Linked DNA regions of Homo sapiens: region 1 is linked to region 2. The links come from fine-mapping of genetic effects on gene expression. A gene starts in region 2. The other region holds a variant in brackets. All regions are shown on one strand. Distances are from middle to middle.

Evidence for each region. PIP is the estimated chance that this variant, and not a neighbour inherited with it, causes the effect.
Region 1: its variant is the best candidate, but not a certain one, in a credible set for the expression of TARBP2 in esophagus mucosa (GTEx, PIP 0.90).

The regions. Positions count from the first base shown.
Region 1 is chr12:53,459,863-53,467,862 of GRCh38, reverse strand. It overlaps PCBP2 (poly(rC) binding protein 2), which reads right to left. Exons shown (of 15, transcript NM_031989.5): 7 at 6,720-6,848; 8 at 5,296-5,370; 9 at 3,011-3,103; 10 at 1,890-1,931; 11 at 570-642; 12 at 20-58. PCBP2-OT1 (PCBP2 overlapping transcript 1) reads right to left here and starts at 3,395. Exons shown (of 1, transcript NR_109828.1): 1 at 2,806-3,395. The variant G/A (reference allele first, on the strand shown) is at 4,320.
Region 2 is chr12:53,497,437-53,506,046 of GRCh38, reverse strand. TARBP2 (TARBP2 subunit of RISC loading complex) reads right to left here and starts at 4,764. Exons shown (of 9, transcript NM_134323.2): 1 at 4,586-4,764; 2 at 3,863-4,032; 3 at 2,918-3,020; 4 at 2,239-2,334; 5 at 1,578-1,650; 6 at 1,232-1,349; 7 at 785-912; 8 at 197-398; 9 at 1-56. The coding sequence starts at 4,638. MAP3K12 (mitogen-activated protein kinase kinase kinase 12) reads left to right here and starts at 6,589. Exons shown (of 14, transcript NM_001193511.2): 1 at 6,589-6,620. RefSeq lists an enhancer at 4,830-5,129 and a silencer at 6,223-6,472.

The DNA.
Region 1 (8,000 bases), 38 kb after region 2:
TTTTTTTTTTAATCATTACCCCAATAGCCTTTCACCTCTGGAGAGCTGGATTCAATGCCTGTTAAGATACAAGTGAAAATGAGTTTGGTGGTCTCATCCTAACCCTATCGGACAAGTTATTCCTTATACAGAAAAGCCCCAAAAACGAAACAAAATAAAAACAAAAACAAAAACAAAAAAAACACTACACAATTTGGCACAAATGGATGGTCTCTACCCAAGCCTGTGAATTGCTGGTGGAGAGAAAGGGGGTGCTGATCAGATCAAGGGGGCAGCAGTCAGGATGGGCTCAAAGAAATATCAGCCTACCCTTTGCCTGACAAGCATCCCCAAACCTCACCCCCAAACCTTCCAGGGCTTTTTTTTTCTTTTAGAATAACTGACCCCAAATGAAAACCACGTTAACAAACACATTACCTCCTTGGGCTTAGCCATAGTAGACAGGCAAGTTTAAACCAGCAGGATGCTGGATAACGAAGTTTGTTTTAAACAGATGTCAAGCTGAGACCTTGGGACTGGCCTCTCTCTTGCACTACACCTTACAGAAATAAACACTGAGGTATCCATACCACTGAATCCGGTGTTGCCATGCGTCATGGGAAAATGAGACTGTTGCATTGCCAACTGGTGCAGCTTGGTCAACTGCAAGGAGGAAACAGGAGGTTGGCATTAGAAGATTTAACAGAGCCAGGGCTCAAGCACATTCGAATTTGAAAATGCAGGTCCTGATTCCCAAAATTGACTCTACTACTCAAACTACAACAGAGGGTAGGGATGGGGCTTGCATCACAATCCTGGGGATTGGCAGAATATGAAGGGTAAGGGTTAGAAATAGAATGGGTGCCTGGAAGAGAATGAATGCCTTTTGGGTGTGGGAATAGAAAAGCAACAGCACTTGCCCAACGACCATCCCCCTTGGAGGCTACTTAATGAAGGTAGTTTGCAGCCATTGCAACAGTTGCCGCAGGGACAAGCACAGACAGGCTAGGTAAACAAACTGTGCAGTGGTGCTAGGGAAAACACACCATGCAGGGTTTCATCAGTATTGGGGAGAGGGAAGGAGATGAGGGGGGCAGGGAGACTGCAAGGAGGAGAGAGGTGAAGAAACCATACTGGGTTTAGTCCCATCACCGCCACCACTGACTACTACAGCTATTTTTATTCATCTATATAAACTGTCCTGACTGTCATAAAATAATCCTTCTTCACGTCTACTTCCCTCTCTCCTGGGGCCTACCACTAACCAAGACCGAAACTCAACTTCCCAAGTCTAATAATGCTCAGCACCTGAAAAGGTTAGTAAGGATAAAAGAAAAGTGCAGAAAAAAATGCCCTTGAAGTCTAAATACCGGCACTTTTAAATAGGAGGTTTTAGCAGCAAGAAAGGTTTGAGTTGAATTCTGAAATGTTCAGGTTCCTATCCCTCTCTGTGTAACATAAGCCCCTTCCCCATCCCTCCAAATACTTTTCAAATTGTCATCTCAGATTGAGGAGTTCCCAAGGGCAAACCCAACCTCCCATTACCCTCATGGAAAAGAGAACTGCATGCAAGGAAGCACAGTCCCAATGTCAATTTAAACTATGCCCTGAGATAACAAATCACAGTATACCATGGAACATTTCCCTTTTAGAAACAGGGTAATCTGAAACACAGGGGGAAAGGAGAAGCTAATGTGCTGAATTAAATTTCAGGGGTTAAATGTTAAAAGGCAAACAAGGCATTACCCTGATTAAAGGGCTAAAATATGGGATTGACCTTGTGAAGAAAACAACTTAATACTGCAAATGCTGAAGACCCAACTCACTTCTGGCTACTTGGGAGAGAGGAGTGAGACAATTTTGGATGGGAGAGGGAGCTTTTCAAAACAAGAAGTGAAAACAAAACTTACATCTGGCTGTGGAATGGCATACTGTCCTTGAATGGTATAGGCCTACAAAAGGAGGAAAACAGTTCCTATTAAAAACCAATCACGGACAGCCACCCAGTGGGGGGAAAAAGACATTTCAACTAGCCAGGAAGCCAGAGTTGAACTAGAGAATGGGGGAGGCCAGAGATTGAGGCAGTAGATGGAATCTCACAAATATGGTCAGACCCAAATTGGCCTTCTTTGAACCCTAAATATGACTTTGTTCCGGGGAATCCTATAAAGGTAGCCAAGTTCCCTGCAATCAAAGGCAAAATATACATAACTGTTTCTTAATGAAAATGTGGGAAGTGAGATTAGCAATGCCTCGACTGACCAAGCCCCACTCTTCCTCCCTGTATACAAGATAGCCTAGGAGGAATAATGATCTCTTCCCTCACCACCCCAACCCTTCTACCAATTGTGGTGATGTGGAAGATCTCTAACTGCACAAACCTACATGGTATGTTTTAAAACACTTCCCTTTCTCCAACTTATTTCTCTATCTGCCTAAAGACCTTAAGAACACTGGATGCTAGCTGAGTCCCTAACAGTAGGGAGCTGATCACAGGTAAACAAAAACCACTGGGTTCTAATTCCTGTCTTCTCCCACCTCCCCTCCATAGGCATTTGCAGCTCCCACTATGCCCTCCTCCCCCCCACAACATAACCTCCCAAAAAGGGAGCTGGGTCTTCAGGGCAATGGGGTAGGGAAAAGGAGGAAAGGAAAAGGGAACAGGGAGGGAGGGGATGGAAGGAGTGGCTGGTTAACAGGATGTGAAGTTTCTCACATCACAGTGGCCAGTACCCCCAAAAGTACACCCAGGTGGGGGTGGAAGGAAGGTGAAAATGGGGTGGGAGGAGTGGGAGAGGGGAAGAGGGGTTGAACAAAAAAAAAATTAAAAAAAAAAAAAAAGTTGGTGTTACCATCTGGTGGGCTACGCGGCCTGGGTGAAATGAGGTTGGGGGGGTCAGTCCAGGTCCCCGTGGACAGGTGGTGTCCACAGCACCAAAAATCACCAGCGCCACTGGCCCCCCGTGTGTTGGCAGTCTCGGCTGAGGCGGAAGGATTGAGTGAGCCTTGGAGACTGAACATCCCCTCTCACCTCTAGAGGTGGTCCCTCCAGGTCAGGGTTGAGGCACATGGACGGGGTGGTGTGGGGAAAGCTCGCACTGTCGCTGCCTGTGCTGTACCTGTCCTGTGGATAAATAGAGGATTTCAGTCTCCAGGGCTGTCAATCCGGCACCTTGTCACCAGCATGAAATTCACACAAAAAAAGTTGTTTATTTTTTTCCTTTTTCCTTTAAAAAGGAGCTCAGACACAATTTGAAACGAGCTGTAATCAGTGAATTAAAAAAAAAAGTTACCTAGTGGCAGATTTCACACTGCACAATTGGGCTATTTTCAATAAGAATGAAGGGGTGGGGCAACAGAGCTGATGCCAGCTCCTGGTCAGTGTGGGATTAAGTTGAACCCCTACAGAGCCCACTTTGCCACAAAGGAACAAAAGACACAGGTCCATCTGTGGACATTGTATATTTAAAAAGGCCTGTGGGAACAATCCATGACAGGGCCACTCATAGAAGAAGCTGCAAATTTTTAGACGGTGGTCATCAACTAAATAAAGGGGAGGGAGGGAGGGAGGGTGGGTAGGGAAGCAAAGAGGTATGAAGGGGGAGGTGTGATGGGGAGTGGAAAAAAAAGGAAGTGAAGGAAGAATTTTAAGTACAGAGGATTGCTGCCACCCAGTATGGGACTCTATTCCAAAGGGGGAGTGGGAGAATCCAGAAGAGCAGGAACCTGGAGTTCCTGGGAAAGAAAAACTCCTAAGGCTAAATCCTTCTGGCGACACTGACTCTGGGCCTTTGCTTATCCTGCCCAACTCTGACTAACTAGACTGAGAGCCCTTTGAACAAACCAGTTTGTACTTTTCTAAAAGCAAGGTACTAAACTGACTCAAGGTTAACACTGTGACATAACCGACCTTCCTGTGAAACCTCTCATAACTACACGACAAACTAAACCTCTAAAAACTTGTTCATTTTTATGCCAATTCAACACAATGTGAAAGAGATGGACTCCCAAGTTTATGCTTGCCCTCTAAATGGCTCCCAGATCAAACGCAGGTAAGATGGAACTAGTTAACTAAATATGCTTGTAACAGACCAGCCCCAAGTGGGAAAAGGTGTTTTGAGCAACGCACTTGCTTAGGCAGCTACCAAAATCAGTCACTATTTCAACCTGAATCCCAATGCAGTTGTCCCTAGGTGTCCCTACGTTATTGGTGGGAGATTAGTCCTAGGATTCCCCCCATAGAAACAAATATCCATGGATATTCAAGTCTTTTACATAAAATGGTATAGTACTTGCATATAACCTAAGCATATCCTCCCACATATTTTAATCATCTCTAG[G/A]TTACTTATAATACCTAATACAATGTAAATACTATGTAAATACTTGTTATACTCTATTGTTTAATGACAAAACAAAGCCTGTACATGTTCAGTACAGATACAACCACCCATTTTTTTCCCTGAATACTTTTGATCTGAGGTAGGTTGAAGGTGGAACCCACAAAGGGCCAACTGTATTTTAAAACCTGATCTACCTACTCCTCAAATACAATCAGAGCATAGGACTACCATGGTCCTTCAATGCTTCTGTCATAATAATCTAACTTCAGAATAGTCCACGTGCCAAAGATCAAGAGTTTAGGTTGATGAGGAAGGAGCAGAGAGGCCACGGTGGTGCTTTGGTGTTCTTACTCTAACACCAAAGGTCACGGCACCACAGCCCAACATGCTCACCCCCCTTCTATTCTTGCACACTGAACTCTTACCCCAGCTGATTTCAGTTATGCCATGTGGGTTCAAACCAGTGTTTATGAGGTTAAGAGCCTAGGGGACAACACACTGGAGTTTGGGAGTGAAGGGGTAGGAGTAGGGGAGGTGAGGTGGAGGGAAGGGGAAGTTTGTAGGACACTCAAATTCAGGACCCCCAAATTTTGAGACCACCATCCAGAATCTCCTTCAGAGGTCCAACTCTTTGCTACCTTTTATTTAGACCTCTAAATATCACCCCACACACATAAAACATGGATGGGGTGGGGACAGGGAGAGAAGTAGAGACAGTAAGTCAATTCAACTCTTATATTCTAACCCAACCCACAAGTAAGTTACCTCTTCCGAGTGCCTACAAAACTTCCATTGCCTGCTAAAAATTAAGGCATTCAGCTTTCTCCAGTACAAAAATAAAACTAAAAGCCGGTCAAACTATGGCCAGAGTATAGGTTTCAGCAAGCATGCAGAGTGGCTTGGTGTGATGCTGGCAAAGTTGACATTTCAAATATAATCTCTGTTCATTCTAGCCCACAAATGAGAATTTTCTTACCTGACCACCTGCAAAGATGACCGGAGAGCTGGACGGCTTGGGCCGGTACGGGATGGTCACGCCCTTCGGGGGGGACTGGGAGAGAGTCAGAGGGGAAAAAAACAAAAAGAGATAAGGTTTCAAAGCTGCTTCAGCTGTGTGGCTTTAGCTCACACAGGTCAGTTAAATTAAAAACTATTTCCATCCCCTTACCTACCAAATTGTCTCTGGCTAGATCTAATCTCAATTTATCTACTGAAAGTTATTTGCCTTTAATGCAGTAAGTCCAAGGACTACACAATTCAAACTGATTCTCATCAAGGGAGATGTCCATGTAATAATCTTCGGCACTATTTCCAAAATTTTAGATAAATTTAATGGACATGAAAAACTGTTAAACGTATATTTTTGTTGATAATTTTTAGTATCTCACATTTTTTTGGCCTGAATAGGAAATAAGGTCAAAACTGCAAATAAAGTACTCAAGTGTTATGTCTAGAATAATACAGACACTATCTATAAATAGTTCAAAGGCTCAATCAAGGTTTTTCTAATCTCTACTTGAAAATTCCAGTTTCCAGGTTGGGTGCATCGGCTCATGCTGGTAATACCAGTACTTTGGAAGGCTGAGGCGGGTGGATGGCTTGAGCTCAGGAGTTCAAGACCAGCCTGGGCAACATGGCAAAATCCCGTCTCTACAAAAAATAAAAAAAATTAGCCAGGTGTGGTGGCGCATGCCTGTAGACCAAGCTACTGGGGAGACAGGTGAGAGGATCGCTTAAGCCTGATAGGCAGAGGTTGCAGTGAGCCGATACTGCACCACTGCACTCCAGTCTGGGTGACAAAGTGAACCCGTCACACACACACACACACGAAAAAATTCGTTTCATTTCTCACCAATGAAACCAACTCCATATCACAAATCTGAAAAGGCTTAATTTTCCTGAATTTTGCTATTCTTTTAATAGAATAATAGTGTATAATCAGGACCTTGTAAGTCATTCGGAAACATCATCATACATACATTTTTCTACTCTATGTAACACTTTGAATACCCTCCTACAAAGTGACAAGTTGTTAAAGAACATGTCAAATTTCCATGTAACCAAAATACAGTAATTCAAAAAGTAATTTAACTCAGCTACTCAGGAACTCAAATAAATCTCTGGCCTCCTTAGTCCATGCAGTGCATCTTCTCCCCGACTCTGCTACAACTGCTGTGAACCAAAAGATCACTGCTGCTTAGCAGTTTCTATTTTTGCTCACAGACCATAAGAAAAGTCAAAGCTAGGGGAAGGAAAATATGAACTCAGGGAACCTTTTAGCCCCACCCCCACTGGAAGCCTTAACAGCCTCACTTAATTCTAGTCTTACTAAATATAGATCAGTCCCTCTGTCCCCAGAATGGCCCTCCCCCCATTTTCAGCATGAGCCTGAGGGCTTACCTCCAACATGACCACGCAGATCTGTTTGACACACTCAATGATGGATTGTGGAATGCCAGCAATAGTGATGGCCCGCTCAGTTGAGTTGGGTAGCATATCCCCTGCCACCTGGACCTGAGCCCCTGTACTCTTTGGAGTAAAAAGAAATTCAAAATCAGAGAAAAACAGTTCATGCTCTTCCAATTCCTCCAGCAGCAATTTCAGAGCCTAAAACTCTAGTAGATATTTATCCATTTCCAATCTTCCCTTTTTGTTCTTTGTCCCACTCTTCCCTTATTCCAGATAGGACTGTTTAGTGAATTAGAGTTAAAAATAAATTAGCCACTGAAAGACAAGAATAAGCGTGAATAACAGCCTAAATTTAACCTACTCTCAAGCAAAAGGTCCTTCTAAATAGTTGCCTTTCAACTAATGATAGTTCTCTGGGCGAAGCAAAAGCCCCACAAGTATCACCCACCTTTCATTATGTTACTGAAAAAATATTTACATCAAGGCCATTCTATGTGCCAGGTACCATGAGAAGTGCTTCGAATATAGCAATTAACAAAATTAAGATCTCTGTCGTGCCATGTACGATACGCTCCCAAAAACTCAAGCAGCCATTCGAGTTTCATTCCAACACCAAATTCAGTAACATCTAGATACAATTAAAATCTTCCATAATTCAACGTAACTTCCATAGTTAAACAGGAAGTAGGGGCCAGGCACAGTGGCTCACATCTGTAATCCGAGCACTTTGGGAGACCAAGGCAGTCGAATCATCGGAAGCTCAGGAGTTGGAGACCAGCCTGAGCAAAACAGTGAGACTCGTCTCTACAACAACAGAAAGAAGAAAAATTAGCCGGGCATTGTGGAGCGCGCCTATGGTACCAGGTACTCAGGAGGCTTGAGGTAGGAGGGTTACATGAGCCCAGAAGTCGAGGTTGCAGTAAGCCATGATCACGATTATGCCCTGCACTTCAGCCTGAGTGAGACCCTGTCTCAAAAAAAAAAAAAAAGATGTAGAATTACATCTATTTCCCAATACATCTTCCTATTTTTCTCCTTGTTGTTTATAAGTCTGGTCAAGAAAAATGACGCTGCAGGCAAGCAAGTGTGCTGGCTCAAGCCTGTAGTAATAACACTGGGAGCCTGAGGTGGGTGGATTGCTTGAGCTCAGGAGTTCGAAACCAGCCTGGGCCACATGGCAAAACACCATTTTTACAAAAAAATACAAAAATTTGGGTGTGGTGGTGGGAGCCTGCAGTCCCGGCTCCTTGGGAGGCTGAGATGAGAGGATCG
Region 2 (8,610 bases):
CGGCTGGGTGGACAGTTCCACCAGGCACTGGCAGAGTCCACTCAGGCTCAGCTCCTCTGGAGAGCAAGAGAGAGGAGGGAGGCAATGTTGGGGGAGGTAGCCCTGGGGAGGGGTGCGTTCACGTTATCATCACCCCCTTCTACTTGCTCCGGTCCAGCCCCCACCATCCCCTGGCTCGCTCCCCAGCTAGCCATACCAATATCCAGGTAGCTGACGTGAAAGGCCTGCTCCTCAGAGAGCTCACTGAGGACACGGCAGCAGGCAGGGCCCAGGGCACCCAGGGAGCCCAGGGAGCAACTGCGGAGGGACAGGATCTTCTCTCCTACTGAATTTCGTAGAGAATCCCAGGTGCAACCTGGGCCCCGGTTTCGAAGACCATCCAGGCGGGAGCCCACACCCTGTCAAGATGGGAACAGTGAGAAAGATGAAGCGAGAGACTGTGGGACCCAGGCATTGAGACATTCAACGTCAAAGGAGAACAAAGCACAAAGAATGCTTCCTCCAGCTTGCCTCCCCCCAGTCAATCCCTGGGTGGCCCCTTCTAACTACCAGGCCCTGGGCCAGATGGCCAGGGATCCCTCCTCACCCCAGTAACAGAGCTACAGAGCGGGCCTACAGTCAAGGCTGAGTCGGCCCCAGGAACCCTGGGTCTGGTAGGAAAACTGTGGCAGAAGCAGACCTAGGGCCCAGAGAGGCTCACTGCTGAGTCACAGACCCAAGTCCCTGGAGCCCTGCCCTGGCATGGAGGATGGGCCACGGTGCCCGGCCCACATGAGCCACTCACAATGGAGAAGTGGTCATCATCAGGCTCCACCTCATTGCCATCCCGGGCATCCAGAGGCACCGTGTGCACTCGAAGCAGCATTTTGGCCGCCGCATTCCGCTTTGCCAATTTTTTGGAAGTGCCACTCCCTGCATGTGGAGAGAGGGCTGCTGGGTTATGATTCCCCACAGACCCAGTGCTTCCACCCAGGTCATACTTGGATTGAGGGTCCCCCCAGAATGTCAACTGGAAAGGGGAACTCAAGACCTGCCCATGCACGTGAGAACCTGGTCAGCCAGAGAGAAGGGGACAAATAGGGTGCCAAGAAGCTAAAAGGAAGGGGCTGAGCTAGGGACTGTGAAGCTAAGAGAGCAGGGGGTGTAGCAGAGTGAGGCCAGGAGCTGCTTTGTGGCTGGGGCCAGAGTGCTGCGGGAGAGGAGTTGTGAGAACCCCTTCTTGCCCAGTTACCAATCTCAATGAAACGCTCCACTCGACAGGTCATGGTGAATTCTTTGCGGTGGGCTGGCCCAGACTCCTGGGTCACTGTGTACTCCGGCAACCGCCAGCCTTTCTGCACCACCAGCTCCTTGGAAGGGAGACACAGGGTGCATGAGGCTGAGTGAAAAAAGGCTTCTCACACCCACGCTGGTCCCCACGCAGGAGCCTCAGACTCTAGGTGAGAGGAAGGAGAGAGGGGGGTGGAAAGGGCCTCAGTACAAGGAACCGCCCCCACCCCCAAACACACATAGCCTTCCCTCATGGCCCCTGGCTCAAGGGAAGACAGGCATGCATGGGAAATGAGGATGGGACACACCTGCAGAGCACCAACGGGGTTGCACTCAGACTGCTGAGGGGAGACAGGGGGCTGCAGTTCCATGGGGGGGCTCCTGAAGGAAAAGGCACAGGGCCAAAGTTGAGGTGAAGGGTTCCATCTGAGCCTGCCCATGAGCTCCAAACCTAACCACTACTTTAGATTCCTGACTACCATCTCCCGATTCCACCGGGTGGGGAGCTGTCTGTCCACACATCTAGCCTGCTCCTCCTGCTCTAGCCGGCTTCCTTCCCCCTCCCACTCAAGGGAGGCCTTCTCCAGGCCCCAGCCCATTTCCATTCTGGAACACTTGGGTATCATCTAAGCCAGGACAGTGGGAGAAGAGCTGTATTTCCAGTCCCAGAAGTGCCTGATGGGCCTCAAACACAGAACTGACATGTGGTCAACCCAGAAGAAAATGGGGCCTGCAAGACCCTTAAACATGGTCGGACATCATTCATAAGGCTGTCTGAAAATCACAAATGACCTCTTGTCCCAAGAGCTTACCAGCTGCTGTGATTTCTTCAAGTTCTGGTTCCCAACTATTCCATTCTGTTTATTCTCAGACTTCCTCATGCCTGACCAGCTTGGGTCCAAGGACTGAGGGACCAAAAACCAGAACCCCTTCCTCCACCCACCTCAGGCAGTCAGGGGACACAGATACCTGGTTAGGACTACAGATGGAACTGGGGTAGCAGCTGCTGCAGCAGTAAAAACCGGAATGTCCTCAGGCAGTGAAGAGTCTAGGGGAGAAAAAGAACTTCCCGAGGGGAAGGGGGCCTTTGATTCACACCCATGTATAGGGGGAAGAGAGGGGTGGGGGACCCACGTCCTCCTGACCTCCCAATCCCCTAAGAGAACTTCCAAATTGAGCCAAAGAATCAGGGAGGCTCAACCAACAGCTTCCTCCTCGGATCCTTTGCTGCCAAACACCGGCGAAAAGACTGAGAAAAGAGAGTCTCAGAGAAGAGGGTATCTTTGTACCCAAGAACCAGAGGAGCAACAAACTCCAACCTGCGCGTGAAGGAAGGACATCTTGCTAGAACAAGGAGGTATGTTGGGGAGTAACTCCCTTTAGCCTCAAGCCTCTACCCCTCTCCCTCCCTAACCCAGGCCCCAACCTACTGCCACAACCCCTCTATGGGGCTAACCAACCCCTCCACCCCAAGAATTCTTCATAGCAGCAGAAGCCCTGGAAAACCCTGTTCAGGTCCAGAGGGACTCTCAGGAAGAGGCCAGGTCAGGGTGGCTAAGTGTCACCTGGCCAGGCCTCGGGGCAGAGTGGGTGGTGCAGGGCCTGGGTTCCTTGAAGGGCTTCTGGGATGCCTCGGTTCCTCCCTCACCTGCTGTCCTCCAGGGCCGGCTCCAGCATGCTCCCCCCTTTGAGGTGTTTGAGGGCCACCTCAGCTGCCTTGTGCTTGGCTGCCTTCTTGCTGGGGCCCTGACCTGAGAGAGGGGGCATGGGCAATACTGGAGGTCACTGAAAGGACGGGAAAGAAACCAGCATCCCACAGCCTCTCTCCTCGTAGCCAGAGGGAATCAATCAAGCCCCTTCTGACCAACCTCCCCCTGCTGAAGACTGGAAGTGTTTCACTAATTGCTGGAAGGAAGAGCCCTTATCTTTCCGTTAGCTTCCAGAATTAAGCCATGCCAAGCAGGACTTCTGAGCTCAAACGCCTTGGGTGGACTTCTGAGCGCAAATGCTTTAATTTCCTTTGCAAAGCACTTTCTTTTCCCTCAATAAATACAGAGAGCTGGAATAAGAGAGGGTAGGCTCTGGAGTAAAAGCCCCACTCTGCCACATACTAGGCATGTGACCATGCACCAGCCATTTACTATCTCAAACACTCAGTTTCCTCATATTCAACATGGGCGGGCGGGGGGAGGAGTCGGGGGGGCGGATACTACCACCTACAATCATTGGTTAGACTGAGGTTTAAAATTAAACGGGAATTTGGTTAAGCACCGGGAACAGAGCCCAGCACGCCAGGCACTCACTCCCCCAAATACTCCACTGGGATTTCAGTTATCTTCTCTTACTTTTCCTCTAGGGTGATGGGGATCTGCCAGATCACTGTGGGAGTCCTGCTCGCTCCTCTAACTCTCCCACGTCCTACCCACCTTCTTACAGCCCTGTTCTCCCAATCCAGTCAGTAGCTTTTCCCCTGAAATCTCTCCTTCCCTCACTGGCCTTGGAGAAAAGGACTGTGAAGAGAGAGACTCCAAGAAACAAAGCCATGGGGACCTGCAAATGCACACCCCAGCCAGGCTGCCCAAGCCTTCCTCACCAGTGCAGCTGGTGTCGCCAACGGTGACCCGGAAGGTGAAATTAGGCTGGTGGGCTTGGCCCTCGGCTTTGAGAAGGTCGTACACAGGCGTCTTCCCTATTCTGGTCCCATACTCCTGCAGAAGGCTGATCGGGGTCTTGCCTGGGTTGGCGGCCAGCATTTGCTCTATACTGGGGGAAGGGGCACAGACCCACATCACACCTCCCCTCTCTGCACCCACCTAGCCAAGCACTTCCATACCAGACCTAGGCACATTATGGGGGACATAGGGTCCAAGGAACCCCAGACAGTCTAGCATCCATTGGCTGGGTTCCAAGTGGAGGTGCAGGCTGGAAAAGTAGGGCCCACTACCCCAAAGCAAGGGGGGAAGAATGCATTGCTCCTGCCTCAGTTAAGGTGGGCACGATCCTGTGCCCCAATGCAGGTTGAAAGTGCATACCCCCTGACACAGTGCAAGCCAGGAACCCAGTACCCACCAAATGCACTGAATGTGGGGGCATAAAGCCCAGTGTTCCAGTGCAGTCTGGGAACCGGGCCAACCCCAAACTATTTAGAGCTGGAGGCAGCAGCCACTGCCCCGGTGCACGCCGGGAACCACTGCCCACTGCCCCAGTGCTTGCCGGGAACAACCCTCAGGCCAGGTGCATGCTGGGGCCGCGCCGCTACTCCCTCCGCACGGCCCCACGCTTTTCGCCCTGAAGGAATCGGTACGAGACGGCTCACCTAGGCAGCCCGCAGCCCGTGGTAGTGCCGGAGCCTTGCTCCTCTTCACTCATTCCCTCCTCCGTCCCCGCGGGCGCCACCGTGACTGCAGCCTCCACGCGCCCCAATACACAGCCGACGAGCTAGGGCCGGGGCCAAGCCCGGAGTCGCGGCCGGTAGGGCCCGCCGCGGGGCACGCTGGGATATGGAGTCCCCCGCCCACCCTACTTCGTGAGCCTCCATCTGGAGGGGAGCTATCCGCCCCACAACCCTCTGCGTGCGTGGCTCGCCCGGGCAGGCTGCACCGCCTTCTGGGAGGAGCGGGCCCTCCGCCGTCGCTTCTCGAGAAGGCCGTATTTTTTTGTTTGTAATACCGTCCCGCCTCCTTCCTTCCGCGCCCCCTCTCTCCCGGTCCGTGAAGCTGTGGACATGCGTACTAGCGGAGGGGAAGCCGCTGGGTAGGGAGGCGGTAAGGACTCACTTGGGCACGGAGCCTTTTGGATCGCGAGAAAACTACAGAACCCAAGAGCCCGCGCGCCATCTGTGTCGCAGCTGGAGAGGCAGGGTCAAGCACGCACGAGAAGCTTCATGGCGTCATTGGTTACTCCCATTGCGATTACTTCCCCTAGGTGCACTGAGATTGGTTACTTCGACTAAAGGGGCGGAGACAAGGAAAAGTCAGCCCCCCCCGACCCCGCCTCCTTGATGAAGGAAGGTTGTGATTGGTCCGGAGAGGCTGCCGTCGGATCCTGGCTCTTTGCGGTCTGGGAGGGTGGGCCTTACCTAGACGCCGGAGGGGACCGATCTCTGTTTCCGCAGGGCTCTGGAGCTGGTGCAGGTTTAAGTCCGTCTCAGACAGTCCCCTCAACCCACAGCCTAAGCCCCTTGCCCTTGGGCCTCCGTGACACAGAACTTGCTTCCTTTTCCTAGGTCGTCCTTCACCTCCCTTCAGGTGTTGCTTCTTTTGTGAAACCTTTTTAGAACCGCTCTAGTGAACCTCTCTTTAACTGGCGAGGAAACCTCTGGGGCCTGATAATCAGGCTGTAATGTGGGACGACAGGATTAGAAGGACTAGGCACCTTGGTGGTCTTGTTCCCTCTTCCATGAGTCTTGGGTCTCTCAGCTGAAGAGAGCAAAAGTGAATTTTGGCCGCCTAAGATTAATCAACTGATCTGGGTGTTGAGCAGACGCGCATTGTTTAGTCCTAGAGCCCCATTGCCTCCTCCCCCAAAGTTGCACAACCACTGGGCTGAGGGAAATCTTGTGACCTTGGAGAGAGAAAGGGAGAGACCACATTAAAAAAAAAAAAGGTTCTAATGAGTGTTCTGAGAAGGGGTCAAGAAAGATGTCTTACTCTGAGCCGGGGTTGGAGGTCCAGAGGAATCTTGAAATGATAATGAGGGGTCATCCAGGAACACTGGAGGAGGATGGGGCCTAGAGCCGAGTGAATTCCAAGTGGGTGAAATTGGAGTGAGTGGTGACAATCAAGGGAAGGAGAGCTGGCAAGATCGGTATGATAGGGGGAGCAATGCCAGAGCGCTAGGGATCCCAACTGAGGGGCTGCTCTCTCCGATGTAGAAAGGAGTCTATAAGACGGGTCATAGGGGGTTCCTGTGGAATCAGCCTGAGGCCTGAGGTGGGACCTCCATAGGACACCGCCAGCAGGGAGGCGCGGGGCCCAGGCGGGCCAGGTACGAGCCTGGAGCGCGCCGGATGGCAGCAGCGGGCTCCTTTAAGAGGCCGGCGGCTCCATCGCAGCATCCCCCGCTCAGGGCGTGTCCGTCCCGGGGGGCCAGGGGCGGGGGCCCTGGAAGGAGCGGGAGTTCAAGCCGAGCAGGGACGGGGCTAGGGGTCGGGGGGTGGGGGCAGAAAGCTGAAGCTGACACCCGTGCATCCGGACACCGCACGAGCATCGCCTGTGACAGCGCCCCGGGTCCGGTGGAGGGCAGCGGGGGGAGGAGGGAAGGAGGAGGAGAAGGAGGAGGAGGCGGGAGCAGCATCCGGAGCGGAGCTGCAGCAGCGCCGCCTTTTGTGCTGCGGCCGCGGAGCCCCCGAGGTGAGAGCCTGGCCGAGTTGTGGGGGGGTGGGGGGCAGGGATGGGTCTGGGTCCTGGGATCCGGGCGTGGAGGGAGGGTCGGGATGCAGATGTGGCCTGGTGCGGGGTGATGGCGTGGGGATGCTGAGGCTGTGGGGATGGAGGAACTGGGGACCTGGACCCGACGCCTGTGGGGCTGGGAAGGAAGGGAATGGAGCGGAGGGATGCCGCGGCCCAGCTTGGAGACGAAGGGCCTCCAGAGCTGGAAAGGACCGTATTGGGGTGGGGTGGAGGATGATTGGGGGACAGACTTAAAGGACAGAGGGCAAGAGAACATCTCCTCCCACTCATCCTCAGGAAGAGAGAGAGGGAAGGAGGAGGGAGAGTTTTGGCCCCCTCTAGGGAAGGAAAGGAAGGGCAAGGACTGATATACCCACCATCTCCACACACACACACACACACACACACACACACACACACACACACACACACACACACACACACACACACACACACACACACACACACACACACACACAGCAGGCTGGACCTGAAGATTAGTCAGAGAGCACCTGTTCCTGCATGCCCAGGCGTTGGTCCCCCTCCCCTTCAAGCTGTGATCCTCCTAATCCCCTCCAGCTGTGGCATTCACCTCCAGCTGTGGCATTCACCTCCATCCAGCTGTTGCATCCTCCCCTCCCCCATTCACGTGTGGGTTTCTCCCTCCTCTTTCTCTCCATCTCCTCTGGCTCCCCTAACCCATCTCCCCCAGTCAGGCCCTCCAAAAACCTCCTCCCTTTCCCACAAACACTCCTCAAACTCATTGGCTTAAAAATAAACAAGAGTTGAGACTTGCTGGTAACCAAGGCCTTGACTGAGAGGAGGGAAGAGTCAAGGCTCTGTAGACAGTGGGAGGAAACAGTGAGGTGTCCCTTAGAATTAAGGGAGGAGTCCTACCTTGTAGATGCTCATCTGCTGCCTTTTTCAGAGGAGCGTAGGTGAGTGGCCTCCAATCAGAAGGGAGTGCACATGAGGTCTCCTCACCCCACCCAGAGTCGTCTCAAGCCACAGTCAGTGCATCCCTCTAAACACATTTCCCTTGCAGTTCTCAAGGTGGACTCCATTGCTCTAGGAGCTCTGAGTTTCAGCCAGAGGGTCCTACCAAGCTAAGGCTAACAGAAAGGATTTAGGAAGGATAGGACTCAAGTGCCCCCTGAGCCTTCCTGTCCAGACACTGAAGTTTCTCTGAGCTTTAGGGCCCCACTCCCTCCTATCTCACACTTACAGGTGAAAAAAAGTGTGTCCCCTCAAGCGTATCATTCATCCACTCACTCCCATTGTCAACTGGGGTAATGTTAGGAAAACCCCAGCTCTCAACATGGAGACACCAGCTAAATATCCATCCCAGTTATGGACAGAGGAGGCAAGAAGTTAGACATGGCTCAGGATTTCCTAGGCTTCCTTATAGCTGAAGAGGGCAGAACCCTTCTAAAAACCAATTGCTTTTCCCCTCGTGGTGACACTGTGGTAGGATCAGGCTTTTCTAGGAAGAGGACTCTTGGTTCTACCACTCACAGCCCGGACTCTCGTAATGCACAGTCCTCCCTCTCCCCTGCCTGGATCTGGAGAGAAAGAAGGAATCAACCCTGTAAGAAGTCCTTGCTAGGGTGGACTGGAGATCACCCCTACATTCAGGTCCTCAGCCCTACACCAGTCAAGCCCTGGGACCCCCAGCTGCCATGCTTCTTCCAGTGAGGTGGAAATGTCTGCCCCTCACGCCAGCCACTCATGCATTCACTCACACTGTTGACTGAGGTGATGCTGGGAAGAAGGAGGATACTGTTGAGATGATGCCAGCAGGGGACATAGGGGCTTCATGAGGGCCTGGCCACAGAGACTGGTCTGTCTGGTTCATTGGCTCCCAGAAGGACTGGGGTCATATGTGTGCGTGGAGAAGGTGAGGAGACTGTGACAGTGACCAGATTCCAGAGGAGGCTAAAGATCATTCAGG